Linked DNA regions of Homo sapiens. The protein of the gene in region 1 interacts with the protein of each later gene in a pairwise test. Each region holds a gene or a part of one and is shown on either strand. Other genes may lie near its edges.

The links.
Region 2: the proteins of HIBADH (region 1) and ERMP1 interact in binary tests that used the Homo sapiens proteins (3 or more experiments, as listed by UniProt).
Region 3: the proteins of HIBADH (region 1) and AGTRAP interact in binary tests that used the Homo sapiens proteins (3 or more experiments, as listed by UniProt).
Region 4: the proteins of HIBADH (region 1) and C2CD2L interact in binary tests that used the Homo sapiens proteins (3 or more experiments, as listed by UniProt).
Region 5: the proteins of HIBADH (region 1) and UBIAD1 interact in binary tests that used the Homo sapiens proteins (3 or more experiments, as listed by UniProt).
Region 6: the proteins of HIBADH (region 1) and GOSR2 interact in binary tests that used the Homo sapiens proteins (3 or more experiments, as listed by UniProt).
Region 7: the proteins of HIBADH (region 1) and SEC22B interact in binary tests that used the Homo sapiens proteins (3 or more experiments, as listed by UniProt).

The regions. Positions count from the first base shown.
Region 1 is NC_000007.14:27,540,350-27,544,678, reverse strand, and holds part of HIBADH (3-hydroxyisobutyrate dehydrogenase, mitochondrial isoform 1 precursor), read left to right. Parts: intron 1-1,578; coding exon 1,579-1,712; intron 1,713-4,329.
Region 2 is NC_000009.12:5,812,290-5,816,618, forward strand, and holds part of ERMP1 (endoplasmic reticulum metallopeptidase 1), read right to left. Parts: intron 747-4,329; coding exon 600-746; intron 1-599. UniProt on the Homo sapiens protein: Within the ovary, required for the organization of somatic cells and oocytes into discrete follicular structures.
Region 3 is NC_000001.11:11,742,378-11,746,706, reverse strand, and holds part of AGTRAP (type-1 angiotensin II receptor-associated protein), read right to left. Parts: intron 2,175-4,329; coding exon of another isoform or gene 2,139-2,174; intron 905-2,138; coding exon 870-904; intron 581-869; coding exon of another isoform or gene 484-580; intron 1-483. UniProt on the Homo sapiens protein: Appears to be a negative regulator of type-1 angiotensin II receptor-mediated signaling by regulating receptor internalization as well as mechanism of receptor desensitization such as phosphorylation.
Region 4 is NC_000011.10:119,109,869-119,114,197, forward strand, and holds part of C2CD2L (phospholipid transfer protein C2CD2L), read left to right. Parts: intron 1-235; coding exon 236-331; intron 332-692; coding exon 693-812; intron 813-978; coding exon 979-1,089; intron 1,090-1,183; coding exon 1,184-1,300; intron 1,301-1,394; coding exon 1,395-1,506; intron 1,507-1,652; coding exon 1,653-1,761; intron 1,762-2,459; coding exon 2,460-2,524; intron 2,525-2,613; coding exon 2,614-2,741; intron 2,742-2,831; coding exon 2,832-3,006; intron 3,007-3,742; coding exon 3,743-3,844; intron 3,845-3,983; coding exon of another isoform or gene 3,984-3,986; coding exon 3,987-4,120; intron 4,121-4,211; coding exon 4,212-4,329.
Region 5 is NC_000001.11:11,282,604-11,286,300, forward strand, and holds part of UBIAD1 (ubiA prenyltransferase domain-containing protein 1), read left to right. Parts: intron 1-3,040; coding exon 3,041-3,528; 3' UTR 3,529-3,697. UniProt on the Homo sapiens protein: Prenyltransferase that mediates the formation of menaquinone-4 (MK-4) and coenzyme Q10. MK-4 is a vitamin K2 isoform present at high concentrations in the brain, kidney and pancreas, and is required for endothelial cell development.
Region 6 is NC_000017.11:46,932,825-46,937,153, reverse strand, and holds part of GOSR2 (Golgi SNAP receptor complex member 2), read right to left. Parts: intron 2,126-4,329; coding exon 1,985-2,125; coding exon of another isoform or gene 1,874-1,984; exon of another isoform or gene 332-1,873; intron 1-331. UniProt on the Homo sapiens protein: Involved in transport of proteins from the cis/medial-Golgi to the trans-Golgi network.
Region 7 is NC_000001.11:120,169,373-120,173,701, reverse strand, and holds part of SEC22B (vesicle-trafficking protein SEC22b), read left to right. Parts: intron 1-4,329. UniProt on the Homo sapiens protein: SNARE involved in targeting and fusion of ER-derived transport vesicles with the Golgi complex as well as Golgi-derived retrograde transport vesicles with the ER.

The DNA.
Region 1 (4,329 bases):
TAATTTCTCTAGGTGAGATCAACAGGATTAGGAGGAATGGTGGTTATATGGTTTAAATAAAAATGTCTAGAAATTGAGCGAAATAATTATAAAACATTAATGGTTTACCATCTTGATAAAGTAAACTAGAAACTAACAAAACAGCAGTCACTTTAATGTTATAAGAATGTTTGAATGACATAGATTGGCTAATTGAAAGCATTTTTTATAAATTGGGTTTTTGTATATAATCCAAAGTGAAGATATTGTAAAATGGTGTAATTTAACCATATGTGTGAGCATCTCAGGTTTTCATAACATGTGGGCACTCACTCTTCCAAGATTGTTTGGCTAGCATAATGCTGACTTTTTTGGCTTTTAATAATTGCTTATGAATAGTATAAACTGTAAAATAGAAAGCTATTTGATTTGACAATAGCAAAATATTCACAATTTGAATGAAATAGGTATCTCTTCACTTGGGCTTTTAAAAAATATATAAATACTGTATTTCATTGAACACATTAAATCCAAAAGCAGGCCATTACCTGCAGCTGTCTAATGGCCAGATTTGATACATACTACAGACAATTACAGTTTCTTTGTTCTTACTGTACTGTAAAATAAGTTCTTCCACATACTTGCCTGGGAAGTTTTGAAAAATAAAGCCTAACTTGAAAATTATGAATCAAGATTTCTTTCAATATTAAAAACAGTAATAGCGCTCTTGGTTTTATTTTATAGTTAATAAAAATTTAGATGAATGAAGCTTTTCCTCTCCCTTTTAGGACAAGTCTAGATTATATTTTCTGTGCTAAATTGAAGGTTCTTTCTCCAATCATTAGAATGAATGAACATGCATTAAGCCTCTGTTAAAAGCTACTAAGGAGTAGTGAAGTCAGTGTTAAAGTTTATTTCTTCTTCTTGCTCATATCACTAAAAATAAATTGCCCAAAAGATGTATAGCAGGAAGGAAAAGAAAAATCAAATAATATTGAAAAGTACATATGAGAATAATCAGTCAAAATAAGCAAAGTTTTCCTTGCCTTAAAAAAAGAATCTACCATCTGAAATGCCTACTTGTTTAAGGAACAAAGAGCCAGGTCTCCCTCTTTGTAGATCTCACTTATAGATAGTATTTGGAGAGTGGGTGAGTGAGCAAGAACCCCGAATCCAAACGTGGGCAGCAGACCTCTCTCTGGCTGCTCCTTTGCTGATCAGGGCCCAGGTAAAACTTTTTTTTTGTATACTTTCTATAACTTAGTAGGTTTCTTAGGAGAATAATAGATGCATGGGAATAATAACATTTACATTTTAAGTTCCCTTATCTGTTAGGCCATGATTGTGCCAAAATGATTAAGGTGAGTTGAGATTGAGAGTACAACTGAATCTGTATGTCTCTCTTGGTTTGTGATTAATCTGGGTGATACTTGATTGCTGAATATTTCTGTAGAGATTTAGAGTATCTTATACATGCCTGGCATAAATACAGATTGGAGGCAGGATGTTTTTAGTTGGTTTCTCTAATTTTATTACCTGCCTAAACATTTTAAGAAATATATTCTTTTGCTTCTATCCCTTTACCCCCAAATGATTCAGGTGTAGGAGCTGCACGATCTGGGAACCTCACGTTTATGGTGGGAGGAGTTGAAGATGAATTTGCTGCTGCCCAAGAGTTGCTGGGGTGCATGGGCTCCAACGTGGTGTACTGTGGAGCTGTTGGGACTGGGCAGGTAAGATTTTTACATTAATGACCTTGACTTGATGATGTAAAATTGACTAATGTTCCTTTCTCTTTCCTGACCATATTTTTATTCTTCTTTCTTCAACCTATGGATTCTTTGCTCAGATTTTAAAACATTTATTTGGAATAAATTAGTTTTGCATCATTCCTGGTGGGCTTAAGCAGACATCAGCCAATTTACTTATTTAAAAAACTTCCATTATTGGCCAGACGTGATGGCTCATGCCTGTAATCCCAACACTTTGGGAGGCTGAGACAGGAGGATCACTCAAGCCCAGGAGTTTGACACCAGCCAGGGCAACATAGTAAGACCCCATCTCTACAAAGAACAAAAAAATTAGTCGAGTGTGGTGACACACACTTATAGTCACAGCTACTTAGGAGGCTGAGGTGGGGGGATCACCTGAGCCCAGGGGTGGGGGATTGAGGCTGCAGTGAGCCATGATAGAGCCACTGCAGTCAGCCTGGGTGATAGAGCAAGAACCTATCTCAAAAAAAAAAAAAAAAAAAAAAAAAACGGGAAAAAAAATTCATTATTAGGATCTTGACATGTCTGTCATCCCAGCAACTAGTGAAATCATCCTTAAAACTGCTCTTATTCGAAGTGCTTGTTTCTGAGTTGCTATTTTCCTCCATCTAATTTTGTAATTACAGTTGACCCTTGAACAACACAGATTTGAACTCCATGGGCCCACTTATACATCTATTTTTTTTCCATAGATATATTGAAAATTTTTTTGAAGATTTGTGACAGTTTGAAAAAACAGATGAACCACATGGCCTAGAAATATCAAAAACATTAAGAAAAAGTTAGATATGTCGTGAACGCATAAAATATATGTAGATAGATACTAGTTTATAAATATGCACAAATCTGTTATAAAGAGTTAAAATTTATCAAAGTTTACAAATATTTATAGACCATACATGGCACCATTTACAGTTGAGAGAAATGTAAAGAAATGTAAAGATGCATTAAATCATAATGGCATAAAATTAACTCTAGTAATACTGTACTACTGTAATAATTTTGTGGCCACCTGTTGCTATTGCAGTGAACTCAAGTGTTACAAGTATTGAGCATAAAATGTCATGTGACACTAATCATCTTTGTGTGAGTGGTTCATCTCTTTAGTAAATTGTGTATCATAGTAAAAATTGATCTCTTGGAATTCTCTTGTATTTTTTTATCATGTTTAGTGCAATACCATAAACCTTGAATGACACCATGGGACCCATACAAAGTGCCACTAGTGATGCTGGAAGTGCTCCTAAGAAGCTGAGAAAAGTCATGACATTACAAGAAAAAGTTGAATTGCCTGATACATACCATGGATTGAGGTCTGCGGCTGCGTTTGCCCTCCATTTCAAGATAAACAAATCCAATGTAAGGACCATTGTAAACAAAGAAAAGAATAGTCATGAACCCATCACTGCAGCTACTCCAGCAGGCTTGCACTTTTTGCAGAACATCTTTTTATCTCACATTGAAAATGCAGCTTTTATGTAGATGCAGGATTGCTGTAGAAAGGCATACTTACATCTAATATGATTCAAGAAAAATATGACAACTTAAAGCAAAAAGAAAGTGAAGGATCTAAAGCTGGAGAATTTAATGCCAGCAAAGGATGGTTTGATAATTTTAGGAAGAGGTTTGCTTAAAAAATGTCAAGAAATAGGCGAAGTAGCTTCTGCCAACCAAGAGACAGCAGACAGTTCCCAGGCGCCATTAAGAAAAAATCATTGAAGAGAAAGTATATCTGCCTGAATGAGTTTTTAATGCAGACAGAAGTGCCCTATTACGGAGAAAAAAAAAAAAAAAAGGATGCTCGAAGGACATTTATTAGGAAGAGAAGCAAGCAGCACCAGGATTTAAGGCAGGAAAGGATAGGCTAACTCTACTGTTTTGTACAAATGCAGTTGGGTTGAAAATCAGGACTGCCCTTATCTATAAAGTTGCTAACTTCTGAGGCTTTAAGTGAAAAGATAAATACCAGCTGCCTGTCTTTTGGTTGTACAGCAAGAAGGCCTGGACGATGAGAACCCTGTTTCTGGATTGTTTCCATCAATGGCTTTGTCTCTGGAGTCAGGCAATATCTTGCCAGTAAGGGACTGACTTTTAAAGTTATTTTGATATTGGACAGTACCCCTGGCCACCCAGAATAACATGAGTTCAACACTGAAGGTGTCCAAGGGGCCAACTTGCCCCTAAACATAACGCCCCTAATTCAGCCTCTAGAGTAGGGGATCATAAGGACCTTTAAGGCTCATTACACATGGTACTCTATGGGAAGGATTGTCACTGTGGAAGAAAACCCTGATAGAACATGAAAATCTGGAAAGATTACACCATTGAAGATGCCATTGTTATTGTGGAAAACGCCTTGAAGGCCATCAAGCCCCTAACAGTAAATTCCTGCTGGAAAAAACTGTCCAGATGTTGTGCAAGACTTCACAGGATTTATGGCAGGGCCAATCAAGGAAATCACTAAAGAGATTGTGCATATGGCAAAAAAGGTGGGGAGTGTATGAAGGCTTTCAAGATATGGATCTTGGATTAATTCAAGAGCTAATAGACACCACAGCAGAGTAATTAACAGAAGAGG
Region 2 (4,329 bases), on another chromosome or scaffold:
AATAAATTCCTAAAAGACAAAATGTCAAAGCAGTGGCACGATTGCTTTGTCACATTTACAAACGACTGATATAAATTCTCTTCCAAATTCTTACACAGTCTATAGCTTTGGTACATAATTCGATACATAATGATTGAAGAAGTATATTACTCCACAGGTAGGCATTACAAGTCACACAGCAAGGATAGGAATATTGAGTTTGGGAGGTCATGAAAATTTTGCCACCTACATTCTTGCCAGGCCAGAGCCAAATTTTAACTTCAAATAAGTTGTACATACAAGTTGCCAAGGGAGTTGGCAAACCAAGACAACAACGAAAGACCCCTGAAGGATCTATTACCATCTTTTGGGAATGAGGTGCTAAACAGTTCACCCCTGTTCTTCTATGGGGAAAGATGACATATTTTAGAGGAGGCCAGCATTTAAATTAGTATGGAGTTTAAAAAAGGAAACAAACTCTGTTTTAGTGAGTCAATGTATATTTCTCACATAAAGAATTTGATCTCAGAAAATGCTGTTTACTCACATACTTTCAAGATTTAAAATTTGCTTTTGATAAATAAATGCTGCACAGTAGGCCGTAACCATTGACAATATACCTGGAATGTTCCCAAAATCCCTGTAGATACGAAAGTCAGTATCTGAAGGAATGATTCCACTCTGAAAAACCTCCTGAGCCACCACAGAAGCAAAAGGGTGTTTAGCTGCTGAAACATAAGCTTGAACCAACCAAGGATTTTCAGGACCTAAAATGAAAGATGACAACACAATAGAAGGTATTCCGGCAATTTTTTTTAACATACTAATGTTTTTCAACACATAGAAAACAGTAAAAGTGGTGGTTTTGGGAGACGGGTCCAATATGTACCTTTTCATCCCTTTTTCTGTAGTTTCCAATGTTTCTCTGATATATGTGTTTGACTTTTAGAATAAAAACCTTTTGTGAAAATAAAGTATAAAATAACAGCAATACAAAAGTCTGTCTGAAAATGAAAGATCATTCATAAATCTATCATCCTAAAATGCCTATTATCAATTGTATATCTTTAATTTTCTTACTAATGTAGAATTGTGTGTATATAGCTGTACTCAAGATATATATACTTTGTACATTTGTTTTCACTTAACATTATATTAAATGCATTTTCCTATGTTGCTAGATACAAATTGGGTATACCTTATCTGAAATGCTTGGGATCAGAAGTATTTTGGATTTTTTACTTTTTCGGATTTTGGAATATCTGCATTATACTAGTAAGCATCCCTAATCCTAAAATCCAAAATCAGAAATGCTCCAATGAACATTTTTGAGCATCATGTCAGTGCTCAAAAAGTTGTGAATTGTGGAGCATTATGGATTTCAAATTTTCAGATTAGGGATGCTCAATCTGTATTATAATAATCATTTTGATAACTGCTTAACATTTCACTGAATATGCCATAAAGTTCCTTGTTACTTTTTATAATTTATCATTATTAATAATTTTCCATCTGTATCTCATACATCTACAGCTTTTTCAAATGGGAGTTTTTCCTGTAGGATAGTGGGATACATTGTTTTATAATTTATATAATTATATAATTATACGTATATTTATATAATTATAATTATATAATTATATGTATAATTGTATAATTATTCACTCTTCCCTCGCTGAAAAAGGATTATACATTCCTACTCTTGCCACATACCTTGTAATGCCTGCCTGGGGAATGAGTACATACTCTTCTGTACCTATTAACTGCAGGCGTGGCTACATGACTTGCTCTAGCCAACAGACTGTGAGGAGGAATGACATGACCCTCAACTGGGCAGAGTTTTCAAAGGCATTAACATCATTCATACTTATCCTTAACTTTGATTTGTGAGATCAATACATCCCTTATAGGGGCTTCTCCTTCAGCCTGGATCCCAGAATGAATAAGACACATGGAACATAATAACCGTGGACCATAACTGCAGTTATTCAGAAACCAAAATGCAACACGAGCAAGAAATAAGCCTTTGCTGTTGTAAACCACCAAGATTTTGGGGTTGTTACCACAAAACTTAGCAACATATTGACTGATGTAAACAGACCAAGTAACTGAATGTCAGGGAATCTAAGAATATTGTTTTTTTAACTTCACAGATTATAAAATTGCTTTCCTACATTTTAAAAAATGACCAAGGCTGGGTGCAGTGGCTCACGCATATAATCCCAGCACTTTAGGAGGCCGAGGTGGGCAGAGCACCTGAGGTCAGGCATTTAAGACCAGCCTGGCCAACATGGCAAAACCCCACCTCTACTAAAAATACAAAAATAAGCAGGGCATGGTAATCCCAGCTGCTCAGGAGGCTGAGGCAGGAGAATTGCTTAGACCTGTGAGGTGAAGGCTGCACTGAGCCAAGATTGTGCCACTGCACTCCAGCCTGGGTGACAGAGTGAGACTCCATCTGAAAAAATAAAAATTAAAAATTAAAAATGACCCAAAAAAGCAGAGGGACCCTATAGAAACAGACATACAAGTAATCCAGATACTGGAGTTACCAGACACAGATTCTAAAATAATTATGATTAATATGTTTTAAAAAACACAGATATCAGTAATTTCACCAGACAAGTATAATCTATTTAAAAGAGTCCTACAAATGGAAATCCTAGAATGAAAAAACATAACTGATGTTGCGAATTTTAATAAATGGGCTTAACACAAAGTTTAATACAGCAGAAGAAAGGATTAAAATTAAAGCATAAAAAGAAAAAAAGGTTGGAAAATACACAAATGTGAGTAATTGGAGTCCCAAAAGAACAGAAGATAGAATGGAGAAGATAAATGTTTAAAGACTTAATGGCCAAGAATCTTCCAAAACTCATAGAATTCAAGCCACGAATTCAAAAAGGTCTACAAACCCCAAACAAGATAAATATAAAGAAAAACTGTATCTGGCACCATTTACTTTTGAATACTATTCCCCACCAAAAGAAACCAAGCCTCCTTAGAGAAATGGCTGATTCCAGGTCTGGGACTAGCAAAGTACAAGGTAAGTTGAAACATCTGTGCCAGAAAGTAAGAAAGTGATCAAAAAGACATGTCAAAGGGGCTCAGGCACTGATTTGAAATAGACACCACTGGCCTAAACTGGGACAATTCATGCAACAAAATAAACAATAGTAACAGAATATATAGAGTAAAATTAAAATACATAAAGTACTGAAATAACAAAAAAAAAAAAAAAAAAAGGAAAATGGAAAGCCTTCCTTCTTGCAGAATTCCAACTATGACCTACAGGCAGAATGATGGAACCAGAAACTCAGCAGTAGCATTTGGTAAACATTGTAATAAAAATGCTTGGGGACAAGAGTCATCAATGATTGCTAAAACTAGGATCAAAGTTTTATGACAAACAGGATATTTACCTAAAGTATCTATCACTAAGGGGAAATCAGTAACTTGTACAAAGAAAGAAATAGTAGAAAAACCTGGCAAATAAATACCTTAATCAAACGATGAAAATGTAGTATCATTAATAATGAGACAAACAGATACCACATGCATCCTGATGTGATGCACTGAGGACACAAATACAAAAGGAAAAAGAACTATGATGATGGGGAAATACGTACATTACGAGATCTTATCATATTAAAATACTATTATTAAAATATTACTATTTGATATTAAGAAATTTATGCTAAAAAATACAATGAAAACCATACTGAAAAACAGGTAAAGCCAAACTATCATTAATTATCTTAAAACTTAGGATAATAGTTCCTCTTAGATGGGAGGGAGTTGTATTTGAGAAGAGAGGTTAAAAAAAATGCCTAGGCAGGCAAGGCAATCCACCCTCTTCCATGAGACAGAGTTAAAAAGATTTTCACCTTACAATAATTAAGTTTTCAACTTTATAATTAAATGCTATATTTGATCCTGGGTAGGAACCCAGATTTTTTTTTAAATGGTTAGGACATTAATGGAACAACTGGAAAAATCTGAATATGCATTATTATAGTTTAATATTAATATTTCTTGAGTGTGATCAATGTTCTGTTACAGAAGAGCATGTCCCTGTTTATCTGAGATGATCATCCTGAGATTATCAATTGACATGATTTTTCTCTTTATTCTGATAATGTAGTGAATTACACAGATTGATTTTCAAATATTATACCATCCTGTTGATCAACTTGGTTGGAAAGTATTATCTTTTGTATATATAAATATTCCTGGATTCAGTTTGCTAATACTTAATTTAGGACTTTTGCATCTAAAGTTGGTATTACCTACCCAAAATATCTACCAAAGCTGAACATATACACATCTTATGACCCAGCGATTCCACTC
Region 3 (4,329 bases), on another chromosome or scaffold:
TTGTTACCCTCACTTTAGAGATGAGGAAACTGAGACACAATGAGGTTAAGTAACTCGCCCAAGGTCACACAGTTGCTGAGCAGTGGGGCTGGGATTTGGAGTCTGGCTGGAGAGGCCATGCTCTTGCTCACCCTGCTGTGCTGCAAGGAAGACTCAGGGGGACAGGGACTGAGTCTACCTCATTTATTACCAAACCCACTGGGCCTTGCCTTCCCCTGCATGCAGCGGGCGCTTCCTAGATTTATAGGACATTCACTAAAGTGTAACATGCAGAAGACATGTGCAAGGCAGGTGTGGAGTGCCATTCGGTTCAATAGGTCTTTGAATAAACCATCTTATCTTTTGCTTTTAAGAAAGCAGGTGCCTGGGTCCCAGCCCAGAATCACCAACTCAGAATCTTGGGGAAGTGTGACTAAGAAATCTGTATTTTGGCCCTGCTTCTCAAGGTCGTGAATCATGATGGTTACAGTTCACATTACTCACAGCTGTTGCCCTGTGCGCTGCACTTCGAAGTTTGCAAAGTGCACAGGTGAGCTCAATGGTTTCCAGTCTTGGTTTGGCAGAGAAATGTCTCCAGAAGCTCAACAGATTAAAAGAGATGGTAAAGGTGAAAATCAAGCTGCAGTGCTGAGGCCTCACTGTGGGGCAGGCCCTGGGGAGCTCTGATGAGCACTTCCACGTCTCCCTCCCAGCTCCTGCAGGGTGTGCAATCCTTATGCCTATTGTACAGACGGAAATCAAGACCCGGAGAGGCAGAGCTGTCTGGCCCAAAGTGACCTGGTTAAAACACGGCAGAACCAGGACCTGACCCGGCTGACACAGACCCTGAGACCGCAGGAGACACACAAGATACCCACAGAGTCACTTACCAGGTTGTCAGCAGCCAGTGACCTAGGAGAATCACCTGTGGCACAACAAGGGGGAGAGAAGAGGTCTGTGAACATGACCACCACAGGGGCAGGAAAGCGTCGGGTGCAGAAAACACAGGACGCCCCTGCGCCTGGCACCTCTGAGGGCCTCAGTAATGTCTGTTGAAAAGGCACACCAGCAACTGCAGGTGGCCCAGGAGTGAAGGAGGAGGAAGAAAGCAGGCCAGGCCAGGGAGGGGCCGCTTCATGCCTTCACCCCTCCCATGGGGCAGCTGACACCCACACCCCTTCCAAGCGTCAGAGGCGTATGAACCAGAGCAATTCCATCTTGAATAGGAGCTGGGTAAAATAAGGCTGAAACCTAGTGGGCTGCATTCCCAGATGGTTAAGGCATTCTAAGTCACAGGATGAGACAGGAGGTCAGCACAAGGTACAGGTCATAAAGACCTTGCTGACAAAACGGGTTACAGTAAAGAAGCCGGCTAAAACCCACCCAAATCAAGATGGCCACGAGAGTAACCTCTGGTTGTCCTCACTGCTACACTCCCACCAGCACTATGACAGTTTACAAATGCCATGGCAACGTCAGAAAGTTACCCTATATTGTCTAAAAAGGGGAGGCATGAATAATCCACCCCTTGGTTAGCATACTATCAAGAAATAACTATAAAAATGGGCAACCAGCCTGGGCGCGGTGGATCACACCTGTAATCCCAGCATTTTGGGAGGCCGAGGTGGGTGGATCACCTGAGGTCAGGAGTTCAGGACCAGCCTGGCCAACATGGTGAAACCCTGTCTCTACTAAAAATACAAAAATTAGCCGGGCATGGTGGTGTGTGCCTGTAATCCCAGCTACTCAGGAGGCTGAGACAGGAGAATTGCTTGAACCTGGGAGGTGGAGGTTGCAGGGAGCCGAGATTGTGCCATTGCACTCCAGCCTGGGCGACGAGAGAAACTCCATCTCAAAAATAAGTAAATTAATTAATTAATTAATTTTTTTAAAAAGGGCAACCAGCAGCCCTCAGGGATGCTCTGCCTATGGAGTAGCCATTCTTTTATTCCTTTACTTTCTTAATAAACTTGCTTTCACTTTACTCTATGGACTCGCCCTGAATTCTTCCTTGTGCGAGATCCAAGAACCCTCTCTTGGGGTCTGGATTGGGACCCCTTTCCTGTAACACAAGGGTGGGAGGCTCCTTTGTGGAATGCAGGGAATCTGCTCTGAAATCAGAAGAGGCCTCGATGGGAAGCGGAGCGGTGGGGACTCACGTGAGGGTGATTTCTTGGGACACTGGAGCTGGCGCACTGTGGGGGGCAGAGGGGAAAGCAGCTGTTGTGGCTGGAGAGAGCGGGCAAAGGGAGGGTAGCTGGGGACAGGTAGGGGGGCCTGAGGGCCTCGGGAAGGAGCGTGGGCTTCATGCCAAGTGCAACGAGGGACACCACTGAGACTTTTCTACAGGGAGATAGCTTGGTATGCCTTATGGTAAGGAAAAACAACAACAAAATCCCCCTGGCTATTTTTCTGGATTTCTGCAATATTCTACTTTTTTCTTTTTAAATTTGGAGACAGGGTCTTGCTCTGTGGGTCAGGCTGGAGTTCAGTGGCGCCATCACAGCTCACTGCAGCCTCAAACTCCTGGGCTTAAGTGATCCTCCTGCTTCAGCCTCCCCAGTAGCTGGGACTACAGGTGTGTACCACCACGCCCAGCTAATTTTTGTTTTTTTGTAGAGACAAGGTCTCCCTATGTTAACCAGGCTAGTCTCAAATTCCTGGGCTCAAGCAATCTACCCACCTTGGTCTCCCAAAGTGCTGGGATTACAGGCAGGAGCCACTGCACCCAGCTACAATATTTTACCCTTTTTAATGTCCTCTGTGTCCTTAAAATGACAGCCTCCTCTCCTGGAACTGGTCTCTACTCCGGGACATCAACAAGGCCCTGACTGGAAAGCACATAGAAAAAGGGCAGATGGAGGCTGGGCACAGTGGCTCACGCCTGTAATCCCAGAACTTTGGGAGGCTGAGGTGGGCAGATCACCTGAGGTCGGGAGTTCGAGATCAGCCTGACCAGCATGGAGAAACCCCGTTTCTACTAAAAATACAAAATTAGCCGGGCATGGTGGCACATGCCTGTAATCCCAGCCACTCAGAAGGCTGAGGCAGGAGAATCGCTTGAACCCAGGAGGCAGAGGTTGCAGTGGGCCGAGATCGCGCCATTGTACTCCAGCCTGGACAACAAGAACAAACCTCCGCCTCAAAAAAAAAAAAAAGGAAAGAAAGAAAAAGGGCAGATGGGCTGGGCGCGGTGGCTCACCCCTGTAATCCCAGCACTGTGGGAGGCCAAGGCAGGTGGATCACTTGAGGTCAGGAGTTCGAGACCAGCCTGGCTAACATGGCGAAACCCTGTCTCTACTAAAAAGACAAAAATTAGCTGGGCATGGTGGTGGGCACCTGTAATCCCAGCTACTCCGGAAGTTGAGGCACGAAAATTACTTGAACCTGGGAGGCAGAGGTTGCAGTGAGCCCAAAATGGGCCACAGCACTCCAGCTTGGGTGACAGAGTGAGACTCCATCTCAAAAAAAAAAAAAGAAAAGAAAAGACAGATGCCTTGGGAGGGCAGGCAGCTGCAGAAAGAGCTTCCAAAGGGAAGGGACCCAGGCTGAGCACAATGTATGAGCGGGGCTCGGCCAGGCAAAGTGGGGCCAAGCCCCAGGCCCTGCATGGGTGGCGGTGGGCATGGAGATAACTGAGGTCGGGGTGGGGTGGCACAGAGACTTTGGGAGGCCAGGAGCCCCAAATTGGGAGCTTCAACGGGCCTGGTGGTCAATGAGGGCCCTAGAAGTTTACTCAAGGGATTGAGGGGTCAGGCTGGAAGGGAGAGATGCCACATGCCTGGGGCAGAGGCAGTGTCCTGGCGCAGACATGGGCAAGGTTTGCGAAGAAGGCCGGGGTTTCTGGCCTGGGTGGAAGGGCAGAAGGAGCCCTCACCACCTGCAAAAAAGAACTGTGGGCCAGGTCTGGTGGCTCACGCCTGTAATCCCAACACTTTAGGAGGTGGAGGGAGAAGACTGCTTGAGCCCAGGAGTTCGAGAACAACCTGGCTAACAAAGTAAGATCCTATCTCTACAAAAAATCAAAAAATTAGCCAGGTATGGTGGAGTACATCTATAGCCCCAGCTACCTGGGAGGCTGAGGTGGGAGAATCACTTGAGCCAGTGAGGTCAAGTGTACAGTGAGCCAAGATCATGCCACTGCACTACAGCCTGGGGGACAGAGCAAGATCCTGCCAGAAAGAGAAAGTAAGGAAAGAAAGAAAAGAAAGAAAGAGAGAAAGAGAAGGAAGAAAGAAAGAAAAAGAAAGAAAAGGAAGGAAAGAAGGAAGGAAGGAAGGAAGGAACGAAGGAAGGGAAAGAAGGGAAAGAAAGGACAGAAAAGAAAGACAGACAAACTCACTCTGGCAG
Region 4 (4,329 bases), on another chromosome or scaffold:
TCTCTGAGGTGGACTACCTCCCCATTGCTCAGTGGCTCCTAGCAGCTACAGGCCCCTGGAGAGGCAGGCCTTGAGGGGACTACCTCCTGTCTTAAAGCCCTGAGCCAAGGAGGGGCCAGAAGCCAGCCTGCAGCTGAGGCCTCCGCAGTGGCAGAGTCCAGCCAGCAACTGAGCAGGCCAACCCTGTGGGGGGCAGCTCCAGAGACCTGATCCAATGCCCACATTACTCCCTCAGAGCTCCATCCAAATCGCCTTTGAGGAGGTGCCCCAACTCCCACCCAGAGCCAGCATCAGTCATGTGACCTGCGTAGACCAATCTGAGCATACCATGGTAAGGGTCTGATGGGCACTGCCCTCTTTGGGGTCCAAGAAGGACTGACCCCAAGGGCTCCCTTTAGTCCAGAGGTTCTTAACCTGGAGTCTGTGAATGCCTTATGGATCTAAGGATTGGTTTCAGGAAGTCTGAGAATCCCATTGAAGTTATGTGCAAAATGTTGGATGTGTGTTTATATGCATTTTTCTGGGGAGAGGAGTCTTTGGCATTTATCTGATTCTTTTAGGGATTTATGATCCTGAAAACATGAAGTCCTTAGGAAAACGGAAGTGGGGAGGGGTCTGCTGAACTATTACAGGGCAGTTCAAAGCAGGGTGAGCACCCTTCCCCCACATCTGACCCACCTCGCCGGTCTCAGGTGCTGCGTTGCCAGCTCTCTGCTGAGGAGGTGCGGTTCCCAGTCTCTGTGACCCAGCAGTCCCCCGCTGCCGTCTCCATGGAGACCTACCACGTCACTCTGACACTGCCACCAACACAGGTAGAAGGGGATGTGGGAAACTGAGTTGGGCAGGGGCGGTTCCATTGGCTCAGCTTCTTCCATTTGTTTCCTCTCTGGGATGGAATTCAGGAAGGGAGAGTCCTCGAATTAGGAGTCCTTGGGTAAATGGGGCAAGTCAGCCCAGTCACTTTGTTCCTGTCTGTAGTTGGAAGTCAACCTGGAGGAAATCCCTGGTGAGGGGCTGCTCATATCCTGGGCCTTCACTGATCGCCCAGATCTCAGCCTAACGGTGCTTCCCAAGCTTCAGGCCAGGGAGGTAAGGAGGCAGAGCTGGCAGAGAAGAGGCAGAACGGGGAGGGAGGCAGAGGTGGGGGATCCACCTCCTTGTTGTTCCCTTCTTCTCTCTGCAGAGAGGTGAAGAACAAGTGGAGCTCTCCACAATTGAGGAACTGATCAAGGATGCCATAGTCAGCACCCAGCCAGCCATGATGGTCAACCTCAGGGCTTGCTCTGCCCCAGGAGGCCTGGTGAGTTGGCACCCAAAGCAAAAGATTTGCATGCACCTTGTTCCTAGGGTGCTATGTCAGGATTCTTGCTCTTTGGACCTTCTTCTGCTCTTAGGTACCCAGTGAGAAGCCACCCATGATGCCCCAGGCTCAGCCAGCCATCCCCAGACCTAACCGGTTATTCCTACGGCAGCTTCGGGCATCTCACTTGGGAAATGAGCTGGAAGGTGAGAGCTGGAAGTGGCTGCGGGACTGCCAAGGCTATGGTTGGTTGCAGATGCTCTCTGCCCCTCTGCCAAGGGTACAGCCTCTTTATTCTGCAGTGACTTCCCATCTCTGATCTGAGCATCTTCTAACTTCTGGTTCATCACAGGCACCGAGGAACTGTGCTGTGTAGCTGAACTCGACAACCCCATGCAGCAGAAGTGGACCAAGCCCGCGAGGGCTGGATCCGAGGTGGAGTGGACAGAAGACCTGGCACTGTAAGGAGTAACCCTGCCCCGACCCCATGCTCCAGAGCAGAGAGGATCAAACCTTTCCAGCACAGTCCTTGCAGGAATCAGCTCTGTTTTCAGTAGCCTTTGGCGTGAGCTCCTATTGTATGCCAGGCCCTGGCGTGGGTCTTAGGGATACAGACTTGACCAAGATACAGCCCCCACCCCTGGGTCAATGACAAGCTTGAGGCAGAGACAGGTGTACATAAAGAAGATGGTAAAACCGCTCCAGTTGAGGTTTATGTAATGTGCCGTCAGAGTGCCTAGGTGGGGGGGAGATTAATTCCCATGAGGGAATAAGGATCAGAGTAGGCTTCATGGAGGAGATGACATTTAAACCACACTTTAGAGCAAGAGTAGGATTTCATCAGAGTGTGAAAGTATTCTCGGCAGAGGGAAGAGCTGGAGCAAATGAAAGAGGGTGGCTTGCAACTGAGAGACTGGCAAGACAGGAAGAGCAGGACCAGGGAGGATTTGAATGCATAGCTGAGAAGCATGGTTTCCACTCAGGCCCTGTCCCTTTCTCTTGGGACGAGAGAGAATTTGGAGGCCAGGAGAATCTGATTGGAGCATTTATGCCGTTTTATTTATGTACACAGCTCTCTGCCTCTGGCCTGTGATCCACTCAAGTGTGGGTTCAGCTTGCTAATTTTCTCCTTCCTGCCCCATCTCCTCTTGTCCCACAGGGATCTGGGCCCCCAGAGCCGGGAGCTGACCCTCAAAGTGCTGAGGAGCAGCAGCTGTGGAGACAGTAAGTGAGGGGTGGGAGGGGCACCCCTGGGTGGGTACAGAGTGGGGTCTGGCCATGGGCCCAGCTCACAGTGCCATCCCTTTCCCCAGCCGAACTCCTAGGCCAGGCCACACTGCCTGTGGGCTCCCCCTCCAGACCACTGTCTCGAAGACAGTTGTGCCCACTCACCCCAGGGCCAGGGAAAGCCCTGGGACCAGCAGCCACCATGGCAGTGGAGGTGAGAAGCTGACCCCTGGGGTAGGTGGGAGGACACAGGGGATGGGCAGTCTCCGAGGCTCTGTCTCTTCTCTCTCCCACCCCTGGGCAGCTTCACTATGAGGAGGGCTCTCCCCGGAACCTGGGTACTCCCACCTCCTCCACTCCACGCCCCAGCATCACACCTACCAAGAAGATTGAGCTTGACCGGACCATCATGCCCGATGGCACCATTGTCACCACAGTCACCACTGTCCAGTCCCGGCCCCGTATAGACGGCAAATTAGGTAAAGAGAAGGAGCCTGGGAGCCCAGCTCTAGCCAGGGGCCCGGGACTGCAGACCCAAGGCAGGACAGTGAAAGAGGAGAGAGCCTTAATTCCAACTCCCCCTGTTTTCAGACATTCCATTCCAGTCCTACCACATCTTCCTCCCAATCTTTGTCTCTTCCAAACTTTCCCTTACCTCCTGCCATTTCCCCAGCAATTCCTCTCACTCTGCCACCCTTCTGGATCCTCCTGCCCCTCCTCATACAGGACTGTTGCACTCCTACCTTCCAGCTTCCCCTCTGGCTTTTCACAGGTGTCCTTAGCCCCAGCTGACTATAATTGTCCATCCTGCTACCCTCAGCCCTCCAGCACCCCCTGGGGTCCTCCAACAAACCCAGAGGCCTCTGTGGCATTTCTACCCCACTCAGTGGGCCCCCATGGCACTTCTGCCATTATAGGGGCCCCACTGAATTGCCCCAACTTCAGGGAGCCCCAGTACCCCCTCTGTCCCCGCTCCATATTTTCATAGCATCTCCCCACACCTTCAGCAGGCCCCATGGCACTTTCCTACACTCCCATTAGCTCCTGGGGTGTCTTTTAGTCCCCACGGCATCTTCCTAATCACCCTTGTGATTAATCACCCTTTAATCATTCTTGCCCTCTGAGTCACCCAAAGTCTGCATCTCAACAAAGACAGTAGGGGTGGGGGCCACTCTGAAGCAACTCCCAGCTCACTGACCCTCCCCCACCCACCAGACTCCCCCTCCCGCTCCCCGTCCAAGGTGGAGGTGACCGAGAAGACGACAACTGTGCTGAGTGAGAGCAGTGGCCCCAGCAATACCTCCCATAGCAGCAGCCGTGAGTGGGGAATGGGGTGCATGAGTGTGGGTTGGCCCTGGTGCCCCAGCATCAAAAAGTACTCTGGGTGGGATAGGAGGAGTTCCAATCCAAGAAAGAGCCAGGGAGAAGTCAGGTTATTCATTCTCTGCACCCCTAGCAGGGGACAGCCACCTTTCCAACGGCTTGGACCCTGTAGCAGAGACAGCGATTCGCCAGCTGACAGAGCCCAGTGGGCGGGTGGCCAAGAAGACACCCACCAAGCGCAGCACTCTCATCATCTCTGGTGTTTCCAAGGTAACAGGGCTCTGGGGAGAGGAGCTGGGATGGGGAGAAAGCCCTAATGGGTCGGTCACTCCTGCCCATTAAAACCCGTCCCTCCTGCCAGGTGCCCATTGCTCAGGACGAGTTGGCGCTATCCCTGGGCTATGCGGCATCCCTGGAAGCCTCAGTGCAGGATGATGCAGGGACCAGCGGAGGCCCCTCTTCACCTCCCTCAGACCCAC
Region 5 (3,697 bases), on another chromosome or scaffold:
ACCAGGCTGGAGTACAATGGTGCGACCTCTGCTCACTGCAACCTCTGCCTCCTGGTTCAAGCGATTCTCCTGCCTCAGCCTCCCGAGTAGCTGGGATTACAGGCGTGCACCACCATGCCCGGCTAATTTTTTTTTGTATTTTTAGTAGAGATGGGGTTTCTCCGTGTTGGTCAGGCTGGTCTTGACTTCCTGACCTCAGTTGATCCACCCGCTGTGGCCTCCCAAAGTGCTGGAATTACAGCGTGAGCCACTGTGCCTGGCCTTTTTTTTTCTTGAGACGGAGTTTTGCTCTTGTTGCCCAGGCTGGAGTGCAATGGCACGATCTCGGCTCACCACATCCTCTGCCTCCAGGGTTCAAGCGGTTCTTCTGCCTCAGCCTCCCGAGTAGCTGGGATTACAGACATGCGCCACTACACCCGGCTAATTTTTTGTATTTTTAGTGGAGATGGGGTTTCTCCATGTTGGTCAGGCTGGTCTCGAACCCCTGACCTCAGGTGATCCACCTGCTTCAGCCTCCCAAAGTGCTGGGATTACAGGCGTGAGCCACCATACCTGGCCGCTTACATTGCTTTTTGCCGAGTGATCTAAGGAGGTGTTCTTGGAGACTCCAGCCAAAGGTCAAGGCTGTAGTGCTGTTGCATTTTCTTTCACAGCCAGACCAGTGGCGTCACTTGGGGAGCTGAGAAAACAAGCACAGCAAGAGTGGGCAGCTGTAGAGGAACTGGCTAGGTCTGTGCTGGGAGTATTCCTGCCCAGCATCATCTTTGCGTGGGTGTAGTCCCTTAAATGTGTGAGATATTGGAAGAGACGTCAATTTACTAATTCTGAACTGGAGCTCGTGCTCTGCTTGAGGGAACTTCCTCCTGGAGGGCATGTCCTCATACAACCAAATTATTTATGAAAACATGGCTTGGTATAAAAATTATCCAAATAGAAGGAAAAAAAATATGGCTTGAGGGTGCAGAATTAGCTTGCTGAATGTTGAAGAGTGTCAGTGGCCATGCCTTAATGCCCTTCCCTGGAGATACTTTGTTCTGAAGAACTAAGGGTGTGTATTTAGCACCAAGGGACCCCAGCTGCTGATGTGAAGGTGAACTTGGACTGGATCTTGTTCCTTAGCTCCTGTCATTTTATTTCATTTTGATTCCTGTGGCTAGTGGGAACTTCTGTCATTTTAGACTGGTTAAAATGCCTAACCAGAGCTTTATTTTCTGATCTTGAGTCCACATCTTGTAGCTTGGTTAGAACTGGAGTTTGCTAAGCTTCTGTAGCAATAATTGCATGGGTCACCTCCCTCAGTGGGCAGCTCCACTCATTCCATACTGCTTTACCTGTTTCAGTCTGAGTGGGAGATCTTTCCTGACCTTGATCCCAAATTCCAGGTGCTTGTTACTGTAGCTCTGTCTTCAGTTCAGCCCTTGTGCCAAGTATTGGGGAGTGAGCTGTGACCAAGCCAGACACATGTCCTGCCCTCATGGAACTTACAGTTTAGTGAGAAAGGTGGAGATTAATTAGAAGCATGATGAAGTTTATGAACATGGCAGGCATATTGCCATGGGAGCATATTGCAAGGGGATCAAATGTGGCTTAGGGGTGAGAGGAGGTGGTCCTGGGGAATGGTCTTTAAAGTCTTAAAGGGTGAGTAGAGTTAGCCAGGCCAAGGGAGGGGTGTCTGAAGGCTCTGACGGATTGGAAGAAGTCTGTGTGAAGAGGGGAGGAGAGCTCAAGGTGAGGCAGGAGAGGTAGGGCTGGGCCACAGGTGAGCCAGGTTAAAGATCTGGGACTTTTATCCCCAGGATGAGTGGTTGATAAGGGTTTAAGTGTATGTTGGGGGAGGGGGTGGTCAGATTCCTTTATTTATTTATTTACTAATTTTTTTGAGACAGAGTCTTGCTCTGTCTGCCAGGCTGGAGTGCAGTAGCATGATCTTGGCTTACTGCAACCTCTGCCTCCAAGGCTCAAGCATTTTCCCTGCCTCAGCCTCCCGAGTAGCTGGGATTACAGGCGTGTGCCACACGCTTGGCTAATTTTTGTATTTTTAGTAGAGATGGGGTTTCACCCTGTTGGCCAGGCTGATCTGGAAGTCCTGACCTCAGGTAATCTGCCCGCCTTGGCCTCCCAGAGTGCTGGGATTACAGGTGTGAGCCACTGTGCCCACCCAGCCAGATTCCTATTTTTAAAGGTTCACTCTAACGCCTTTTTAGAGATTAGATTAGGGATGGAGAGGGGGAGGGGTTATGAGAGGGGAAGCTGATAGACCAGTTTGGAGGATGTTGCAGTATCCCAGGCATAAGATGACCATGAGGTAGATTTGGTAAGGGGGATGGAGGGTGGCCCCGGGGATGGAGAGAATGGATAGTTTTGAAGGAAGTGGGTTAGACAGGCTTTGAAGTAGATGAGCAGGACAGAAACAGGAGGTAGGGGTGGTTTAGTTTCAATCTCATAGGAGACAGAGGAGGAAAGCAGCATTATAACTCTCCTGTCCTCGCTGTTTTGCTTATCGCAGGGGTGCAGGTTTAAGGACCCCGAAATTTCACTGAAATTCACTGGCCGTTTTTAAAACCAGAAGATGCCTTGAGATTGTAGGGGAAGGAGGTGGAAAAGTAGAAGGCCAGAGTGGCTATTCTGTGAGGGATTGATCTCACGGGGTCTTGCAGGGGTTGGTGAAGGGTGAAAGATAGCAAAGAACTGGATTCTAAGACCTTTAGATCCTTCCTGGGCTCTCCCATTGAACTAAGAGTATAGTGGGTGCCTAGTGTGCTATGTTGCAGAGCTCTGTTGGGGGACAGTAGGAAGGGAAACTTGGGTATGAACCTGGGAAGAGGGACTTGAGGCCTCACTGGGCATTCTCTCTGCACCTGTGGCATTGGAGAAGAAATCAGAATTTGCTCTGTGGGGTTAAGGGATGAAATGAGTGCCCACCTGCACAGTCTAAGGATTTACCATTTTCAGCCGGAAGTGGCCTGCCTCTTCACTGGTGAACAGTCCCTAAATTTCCAGCCTTGGTCTCACACCAACTCTCTGGATTTTCTGGCCGCAGGAATTGGATTCAAGTACGTGGCTCTGGGAGACCTCATCATCCTCATCACTTTTGGCCCGCTGGCTGTGATGTTCGCCTACGCCATCCAGGTGGGGTCCCTGGCCATCTTCCCACTGGTCTATGCCATCCCCCTCGCCCTCAGCACCGAGGCCATTCTCCATTCCAACAACACCAGGGACATGGAGTCCGACCGGGAGGCTGGTATCGTCACGCTGGCCATCCTCATCGGCCCCACGTTCTCCTACATTCTCTACAACACACTGCTCTTCCTGCCCTACCTGGTCTTCAGCATCCTGGCCACACACTGCACCATCAGCCTGGCACTCCCCCTGCTTACCATTCCCATGGCCTTCTCCCTTGAGAGACAGTTTCGAAGCCAGGCCTTCAACAAACTGCCCCAGAGGACTGCCAAGCTCAACCTCCTGCTGGGACTTTTCTATGTCTTTGGCATCATTCTGGCACCAGCAGGCAGTCTGCCCAAAATTTAAGGGGACAAGTAGCTCCCCCCACGACATGTCTCCCTTTCTTAGAATATATTAAAGTCAGAGTCTCTGAGGAAGGAATGTGATTTGGCAGTCAGGGTACTAAGCATGGGTGGGAACTCCTGCCTTATAAAAATTGTTTTTGTGTTCTTAAAGATAATATGTTGTTTTTCTG
Region 6 (4,329 bases), on another chromosome or scaffold:
CCAAACCATCCAGCCTGTCCTTCCCTACTGCTTTCTAATTTTCAGCTTAAAGCACATTCAATTTCTTAGTAAGAAACAAGTATAAGTGAATGCCGGGGCAGACCCCAAGTCACTCAGCACATATCACCCACTGCAACTTATATGCATGGCATCTAACCTCATGCCCCATATCCTTTTTTTTTTTTTTTAATAAATACACATTAATGAGCAACTGAGAGAAACAAGGAAAGTGAGATCAACATTAGGCATCATGGACAGGAATCCAAAATCTACATTCTGCCCAGAAAGCAATTAAGAAGCCTCAGCCAGAGAAATTACAAGTCAAACTTCATTGCCATCAGAGATCAGAGAAATGTATTTGTATTTTTTTTTCCCCGAGATAGTGACAATACAATCAGACTCTTGCTAAAGTCCTGCTTGGCTCTGAACACACAGATTATTTCATCACTGTATGAGGCTAAGGATCAACCTTCTAAATCACTTGAAAATGACCATAAATTTCAAAAAATGTATTCATTTTCAGCCACAAATTGGCCCCAGTCATCAGAGTGCTTCAGCCTAGCCCCTTCATGCCCTCTCCTATGTTCCTTTTGAATGGTGTAGGTGGAAAATCCCGACGGAGGCAGGGTGTGAGGCAGGTGGAGGGAATCAAGAGACAAACACCAGGTAGCCACAGGTGTGCAGAGGAAAGTTAGAAACCTCAAGTCTCAACCCCCAGCCACCTCACAGCCTTCCCCTCTGGTATCAGTGTGGGTGGCAAGAGGTGTGCTGATGCCCCAGCGCTGCCAGACTTGAGTGGGAAGTTAGCATGTGCCTTAACAGGACGCTCTAACCCCCACTGGCTCTTCATCAGTGTGACATGGAGTTTGGTCCTAAAAGGCCTCTACTGTTTTTCTGAGATATGAAAAGGAGAGTAGCAGTTTTCTAAAGAAAGGGCAGACTAATCAACATGTATCAGTTCAGGTCACTGCAGGTGGCTCTCATGAAAGGGGAGCGCCCAGCAGGCTGCTGGAGACCACCCTTCCAGGCCATCTGAGACACTGCAACTGTCAGCAGGAGGTGAGTGTCACTTGCAGCTTGCCTGACCCTCTCCCCCGTAGAGATGGCAGGGACTGTTCAGAAACGTACTGAAGTCCTGTGGAGCTGACAGACTCAACATGATCCAACAAAAACTAAGATAAAGCTCACACTTCCGAGTGACTGTTTCTCACAGCTCAGTGGCTGGGAGTGCTTCATTCACAGGGGACCACACCCTGATAACAGACAGAACCCACGCCCTATTATCCATCAGGGTTGATACAGGAAAAGGGCAGAGGCTGAAACATCATGACTGACATCAGAGTCTGTGTAATGTTTCTGTAAACCACTCCCAGGGGCTGGAGTCTCAGCAGTGCCAACTGGTCAGGGCTTCTAGGAATACCTAAGGCTAGGGAGTGAAGAGTCGCTGGGATCACCAGCACGGGCTTTAGAAGCTCTAGAAGCTTCTAAAGCTCTAATCTACTGCAAACAACCAGGCAGCCCTAACACTGCACAGTGGGGATTCAGTTACTAAAATACAAAAGGTTTTAGTTATAAGGCAGTCCACAGTAGGGGTCCTAAGGGAAAGCCACCTTAAAGCGAGGTACCAAAGGACAGCCACGTCTTCATTCTTCCAAGAGTAGATTCTGTAACACAATTTCTCAGCCTGTGATTGGACCCCTCGTAGTAGCACTCACTTTCATGATAAGTTCAGTAAATGGGAAAAGACCTGGATCCTAAGAGAGGCCACTTCATGGTTTGTTTCAAGCACTGGCAAAGGAACTGGGTACTTTCAGGCTCACAATAACTCAACTCCAACAGAAAGGATCCCAAACTCAAGGGCTCTGTCTTGTCATCAAAATATCACAATTTGAGGACACGTAATCAAAATATAAACACAGTTACTAAACTGTTGGATGAGGCTAAAACAAGAGGCCTTCTCTCTGTCCCCCAGCAGGGACCCCACCTTCAAGGTCAGTCTCTGGGTCCTCAGTCCATCTAAAATATTGTGCCCATCTAAAATGAGGTCATCCATGCCGTTGTGAACTTTCTGGAGGGAGGAGTTAAACTGCAGTGATTCGTCCATTGGTATGGTGGTGTCAGAGTCCTGTGAAAGAAACACAGGCACTTGATTAACTTTGCTTATCAGTCAGTTCCTGGGGTCTCACTGCTCTGTCTTTTGGCCAAGGCCAAGCCAGAACAGCCGGAGGGGCTGGTGAAAGAATCAGCGGACCCTAATGGATAAGAAAAAGCAAAGCAAAGGCCTGGGGTGGCCTCTGTCCACACAGAAGAGGAACTTCCTCAGATCTGTCACTCTCCAAATGAGTTCCACTCCACAAGTATCGTTCATTCCAACGATACTTGTCTCTGTATCATGATCTCCTCTTAGGAAAAGCTATTCCTTCAAGACCTCATTGGGTGTCTCCTAAAGGCTTTCTCTGACTACTCACTAACCTAGCTGGTTCCAAATGTTCCTTTCCATGGCTTCCCCTTAATGCAGTGTTAAATGTTTGCTCGTGTCCTTTAGCTATTTTATCTATAGTTTACCTCTCCAAGTAGACTGAGAGTTAACTAAGGATAGAGGAGGCTGTGCTTCTGCATTTTCTTTTTTTTTGAGACAGGGTTTCCCTCTGTCACCCAGGGTGGAGTGCAGTGGCGCGATCTCAGCTCACTGCAACCTTAGCCTCCTGGACTCAAACAATTCTCCCACCTCAGCCTTCTGAGTAGCTGGGACCATAGGTGCATGCTACCATGCCCAGCTTTTTTCTTTCTTTCTTTCTCTTTTTTGTATTTTTGGTAGAGACAGGGTTTCACCATGTTGCTCAGGCTGGTCTCCAACTCCTGTGCTCAAGGAATCTGTCCACAGGCCTCCCCATTTTATAGATGAAAAAATGCCCAGAGAGGTAGAATAACTTGTCCAAGATCACACAGCTGGAAGTGTGTCCAGTGATCACAGAGCTGGAAGTCCAGTGGAGCTGGGAATGTGGGTACTGAGCGCAGGGCCTGCCCTGTTACCCACACTGTAGAGGGAAACACCAACGCCCATCCTGGTGGCTCTACTTTTGCTCTGAAAGTGGACTATAGGCAGGAGCCAAGTCCTCGCCAGCTGTGAGAGCGTTCCCTTCTCTTTTCTGCCAATCACAAGCTCTCCTGCCAAGTAGTGCTGGGGTTTGTTTCGTGTTTTTTTTTTTTTTGAGACAGGCTCTCACTCTGTCACCCAGGATAGAGAGCAGCCTTGACCTACCAGGCTTAAGTGATCTTCTCACCTCAGGCTCCAGAGAGTAGTTGGGACCACAGGCTCACGCCACCACGCCCGGCTAATTTTTATATTTTTTTGTAGAGACAATGTCTCACCATGTCACCCAGGATGGTGAACTCCTGAACAATCCACTGCCTTGGTCTCCCAAAGTGCTGGGATCACAGGCGTGTGTCATTGTGCCCTGCTCCACTAGTGCTGTTTTTACCACCTAAATTCCAGTTTCAATTGTCCAAAAAAAAAAAAAAGGTTATGCCACTGTTTCTTTGCTGCTCAGATTTGGAATCATTTTGCACATACGTGTTTTCAACTGCCCCTGCTAACAGGGGAGCTCCTCACAGATAGGCGTCAGGTCTTTTAATTTCATCATGTGCTTTACTCCTAGTGCCTGAATTAACTAGTTTTCTGCATGCAGCTAATGCCCAGTGTGTCAGAAGATGCTGGCGTTTGAAAGACTCAGAGACTTCTCTTCAGTAATTTGACTAGCACTTATGAAATGCCATTCACATACAAATCTTTCTTACCCTCCCATCTAAAACAGTATGGCTGATGGGCCATTATCTCTCAGAAAAATGTATTATAGCTCCATATGGTAGAATGACCAGGAAGAAGTTTCATCTGGCAAGTCAATGTTTATTAAGAACTGACGGTGTGCACAGCATCACGCCAGGCTGGCAAAAAACAAAATAATCCCAAGCGATCATCCTTGGCCTAAAAAAGGCCTGAATACTACATTATAACGATCTAAAATCCAAACATCTTTTAGTGTGTCTTATAGTTCATTAAATTTTTGAACTGTTAAACACTGTAACTTGACTGCTTAGTCTGGGGAAGCAAAAACTATGTTGGCACAGCCTGAAACACTTGGGAAAATTTATTGCAAAGCAAGGATGCAGCATTGAGGGTTAAACATCTACAAAGCAGGAAATGATGTGAATTTTAACAACTGGCTTAGAAAGCTAACATCTCTTTAGAAAATAATCCTCTGTAAAAAAACAAAATACAAAAAGCCAAAGCACACTTCATTTAGTGGAATATATTATGCAGGACACAGA
Region 7 (4,329 bases), on another chromosome or scaffold:
CAGGCCAGATAATTCAATGTATTTTCATTTTTGTATGTTTTTGTTTTCTTATCAGTGTACTTTCAGTATTTACACTGATAATAGATATCATATTTTAGGTATTTACTAGGTGCCTGTACAAGCTGCCATATTACCGAAGATGGACAGTTATTCAGATAATACAATAGAGAGTAAAATTTACAAAATAATGTAGACAGAGTATTTTATACAGGGTGTTTCCTCTGTGTTTAACTGAAAATTTAGACTTAGGGCAGGAAGAGAGATGAGCTTTTCTTCTCAAATGTGGACTCCCTAACTGATACCCTGTTTATCTTTTTTCCTCATTCCTTTTATGGCATGTTTCTCCTTTTAGGATTTTTGCAATTTCTTTATCTACCTTTCTGTTCTGCCTCAAAATTATTGTATTTTCTTTCATTTTCCTCTGGCATCGTGAAGGGCAGTCCAGACTTGAAGAAAGTGTTAGATCTCACCAAATAGGCAGCAGGAAGCTCCAAGAAAGCAGATAGATAACATGTTATACAGTTAAATTGTCTCACGCTCCCAATCACTGAGGGTTGATTAATCCACTTACTGTAACTGCTTTTAGAGGAAAGTGGTTGGTTCTTGGTGCTGCTGGTCTTTGACCAGCTGAGTTCAGTGGGTATTGATACCCACTGAACTCAGCTATGAAAATGATAAAGAGCTATGAAGGCAAAAGTTGTTATTGATACAACTAGTTGTTCAGCAGTCTTAGGTGACAGCAACGAAAAGTATTGTGGTTGTGTGTCTAGTTACTACCTTCTATCTTTTGTAATATATAGATCCAAATCCTACATTTGCTGTTGGATAACCTCAAATTTGTTTCACAGTTTTTCCAGTTATTCTGATCCACTGCATTATTGGATTACTAATAGATATCTCATAATTATATCATATACAAATTTCATTAATCTTTTCTAGATGAAGTAGAAAACACAATGAGGATATCTAAATATTTTTAGGTGGACTGGCTAACTGTGGGCCCTTTGTGACTTTGATCTTGAAAGCAAACTAAAGGTCAGTATGTAAAACAGTGGTTAGGTTGTTTTGTGAGATCTAGATCAGAGCTGCCCCATGGTTTCTTGAGCATTTCCAATGAGTTAGAATTACATAGTAAGACTTCACCTAAAAGGTGGATCTACTATTGAAACAATTTCAATTATAGAGTTAGGGTAGCATAATGCTTAGGAGTAGGGGCTCCAGGGCCAGATTGCCTGCATTCAGATCCTAGTTCCTCCCTTTTTAGCTTAGAGGCTAAAAAGTTTGACTTCTCAAGTAAAAAATTGACATAATAATTCTAATCACCTCATGAAGAATAAACGAGTTAAATAATGTAAAGTGTTCAGAACAGTGGCTGGCAGAAAGTGAACACTTAATAATTTCATTTGATCATTTCTGAAGAATCTTTTCTAATTCCATCTTGCCTTTCTTTTTTTTTTTTTTGAGATGGAGTCTCACTCTGTTGCCCAGGCTAGAGTGCAGTGGTGTGATCTCAGCTTACTGCAACCTCCGGTCCCCAGGTTCAAACGATTCTCCTGCTTCAGCCTCCCGAGTAGCTGGGATTACAGGCACCTGCAACCCTACCCGGCTAATTTTTGTATTTTTAGTTGAGATGGGGTTTCAGCATCTTGGCCAGTCTGATCTTGAACTCCTGACCTCATGATCCACCTGCCTTGGCCTCGCAAAGTACTGGGATTACAGGCGTGAACCCCCATACCCAGCCTCATCTTGCCTTTCTTAAAGGTTCACAGATCAGAATTGCACATAATCGATACACTGGATGCAAATATGTAATGAATGAATGATTTTTCACATTACAAAATTAATTTGTGCATATTGTAGAAAGTTCAGTAAATACATAAAAGCAAAATGACCAAAATGTTAACAGTGTTTATTAACTATAATCTGTACTCAAATTATATCCATTTTGGTGGATGACCTTAAACATATGTATGTGTGTATAACATTAAATAATAGGTAATACCGTAAGACTGTTTCACCTAATTTTTTCCACTTAACAGTGTTTAATGAATATTTTCTCATATCATTAAACTCTATACAGCATTGTTTTAATGGCTGCATAGTATTCCATTGTATGAATATGCCAGAAAGATTATTATTTAACCATGAAGATTGTGCTAGCATTGTGTTCTCGAGGATGGTAATGCTAACTGAACCAGCATGGTAAGGTGTTGGTTGGCATACCATAATCCCTATAAATACATCCCCAGTGTTGTATATTGGCAGTCTTTACATTGCTGTTTGCAAATTCCTGAAATTGCAGAATGCTTTTGGCCAGTTTCTTATAGTTGATACAGTTGTTAGTCTTTTTCTCAGGTTACAGTAATGTTTACAGTGCCTCTTGTAAAGTCAAAGGATTTGTACCAATCTGAGTGGCAATTTTTTCCATGTTTCTTCAACTAGTCCTTTTAAGATTCTCACCTGCCTTTAGCAAAGAACATATATTTAACACCTGTGGTTGCAGTTATGTAAAAAATACCGATATCACAGCCCCACCTCCGAGATGCTGACTTAATTGGTTTGGTGGTGGAGACTGGGCATAAGTAGTTTTGTTTTTGAGATTTCCCCAAATGATTCTATTGTGAAGCCAAGGTTGAAAATCACCGATCTATGTTGATATTATTTCTTGGCACTTGAGCCAAGAAATAATAAAAATATTTCTTTTTTTTATTAAAGAATTTTAAATTAAATTAAATTTAATAAATTAATTTTATTAAATTAAAGAAATTTGCATGCTTTTTATCTACTCTTGTGGGTTCAGATCTCTTCAGAATGGCACTGGGGAAACAAAAAGATTGGTAAGTACCATTCAAATTTAGGAAAATAGAATATTGTGCACTAGTTCTTATTGGCTAAAAGCATATGACAGTATTCACTCTTACTGGCTGGCCATATATTAGTAGTACTGTTTAATATGATAATTTTGATATAATTATTATAAAGTACTGTTTAATATATAAAACTGTACATACATACAGACATACATATGTTAATATAGAACTATTTCTCAAATATATAACAAATATATGTCAATAAAACAAATAATTGCCATAACAGTGGTATTAAACAAGATAAATCTACAAACTAATACCTCAACTGGACTCTGCCTATCTCCCCTGGTTCACCTCATGCTTATTCACCTTCTTATTCTTATTGAAATTTCCAGTTCACCATTTTTACATATAGCTTAGAATCTTATTATCCTGTAATTGTACATTTGCTGATCTGCCACTTTATCATTTTATTGTTGCTTCCTTGTTTTTATTATCAGCTTAGCAGTACACTATCTACAATTTTAAGATATCACTTTGTACTTTATCAAAGTTAGACCTCAGATCCTGGGAGACCCTAGCATAAATACTTTTCTACTTAAATATTTAGTTATTAAACATCTGCCAAAGGGAGGCTATTCTTTCTATGTAAAATAAATAATTCCAAAATAGGATTATTTCTTTGCATCACATGGCAGTGTCCTAGTCTGGTTTACTATACAAAATACCATAAATTGGGTGGCTTATAAATGACAGAAATTGATTTTTCTAGTTCTGCAAGGTGAAGATCAAGCACCAGCAGATTTGGTGACTATTGAGGGCCTATTCCTGGTTCATAGATGTCACCTTCTGGCTGTTTCCTCACATGGTGGATGGAGCAAGCTAGCCCTCTGGGGTCTCTTTTATAAAGGTACTAATCACATTCATGAGGGCTCTACCCTCATGACTTAATCACCTCCCAAAGGTCCCACTTCTTAATACCATCACTTTGGGGGGTTAGGATTTCAACATGAATTTTGTGGGGGATACCAGCAAACATTCAGACTATAGCTGGGTAGCTGGCAGAAAGCTCCCCTACCCCACATGTGGATGGAAAAACAATGTCTATTTGCTTCCCATTCTTCAGGCACTTCCTTTCCCTGTTGGATCTAGTAGATTGGAGATGCATGGTTTTCTTCTTTTGAAATGACACTGCTGGTTTTTCCAGTAGATTTGCCCCCTCTTTTTAACAAAAATAATTGTAAAAGCAGTTAGAAATTGTTCAGGAAAATATTACCTGTAATTATAACATGTGAATGCTATTATTTTCATTTTTGTCTGCATATATCCCTCGATATTCAAACTTTTGCTGTCCAAACTTGGGAACCAAATAGATTTCTTCAGTAAAGGGTATCTGACATCCTAATCTTTGTCTCTACCCTTGGTCATTTTTATGTAATTGCAGTCAAAGTGTTCGTAATAATTTGCAGTCACTAGTACACACATTTAGTTTTGTTTAAATGCTAAAAACTGTAACACT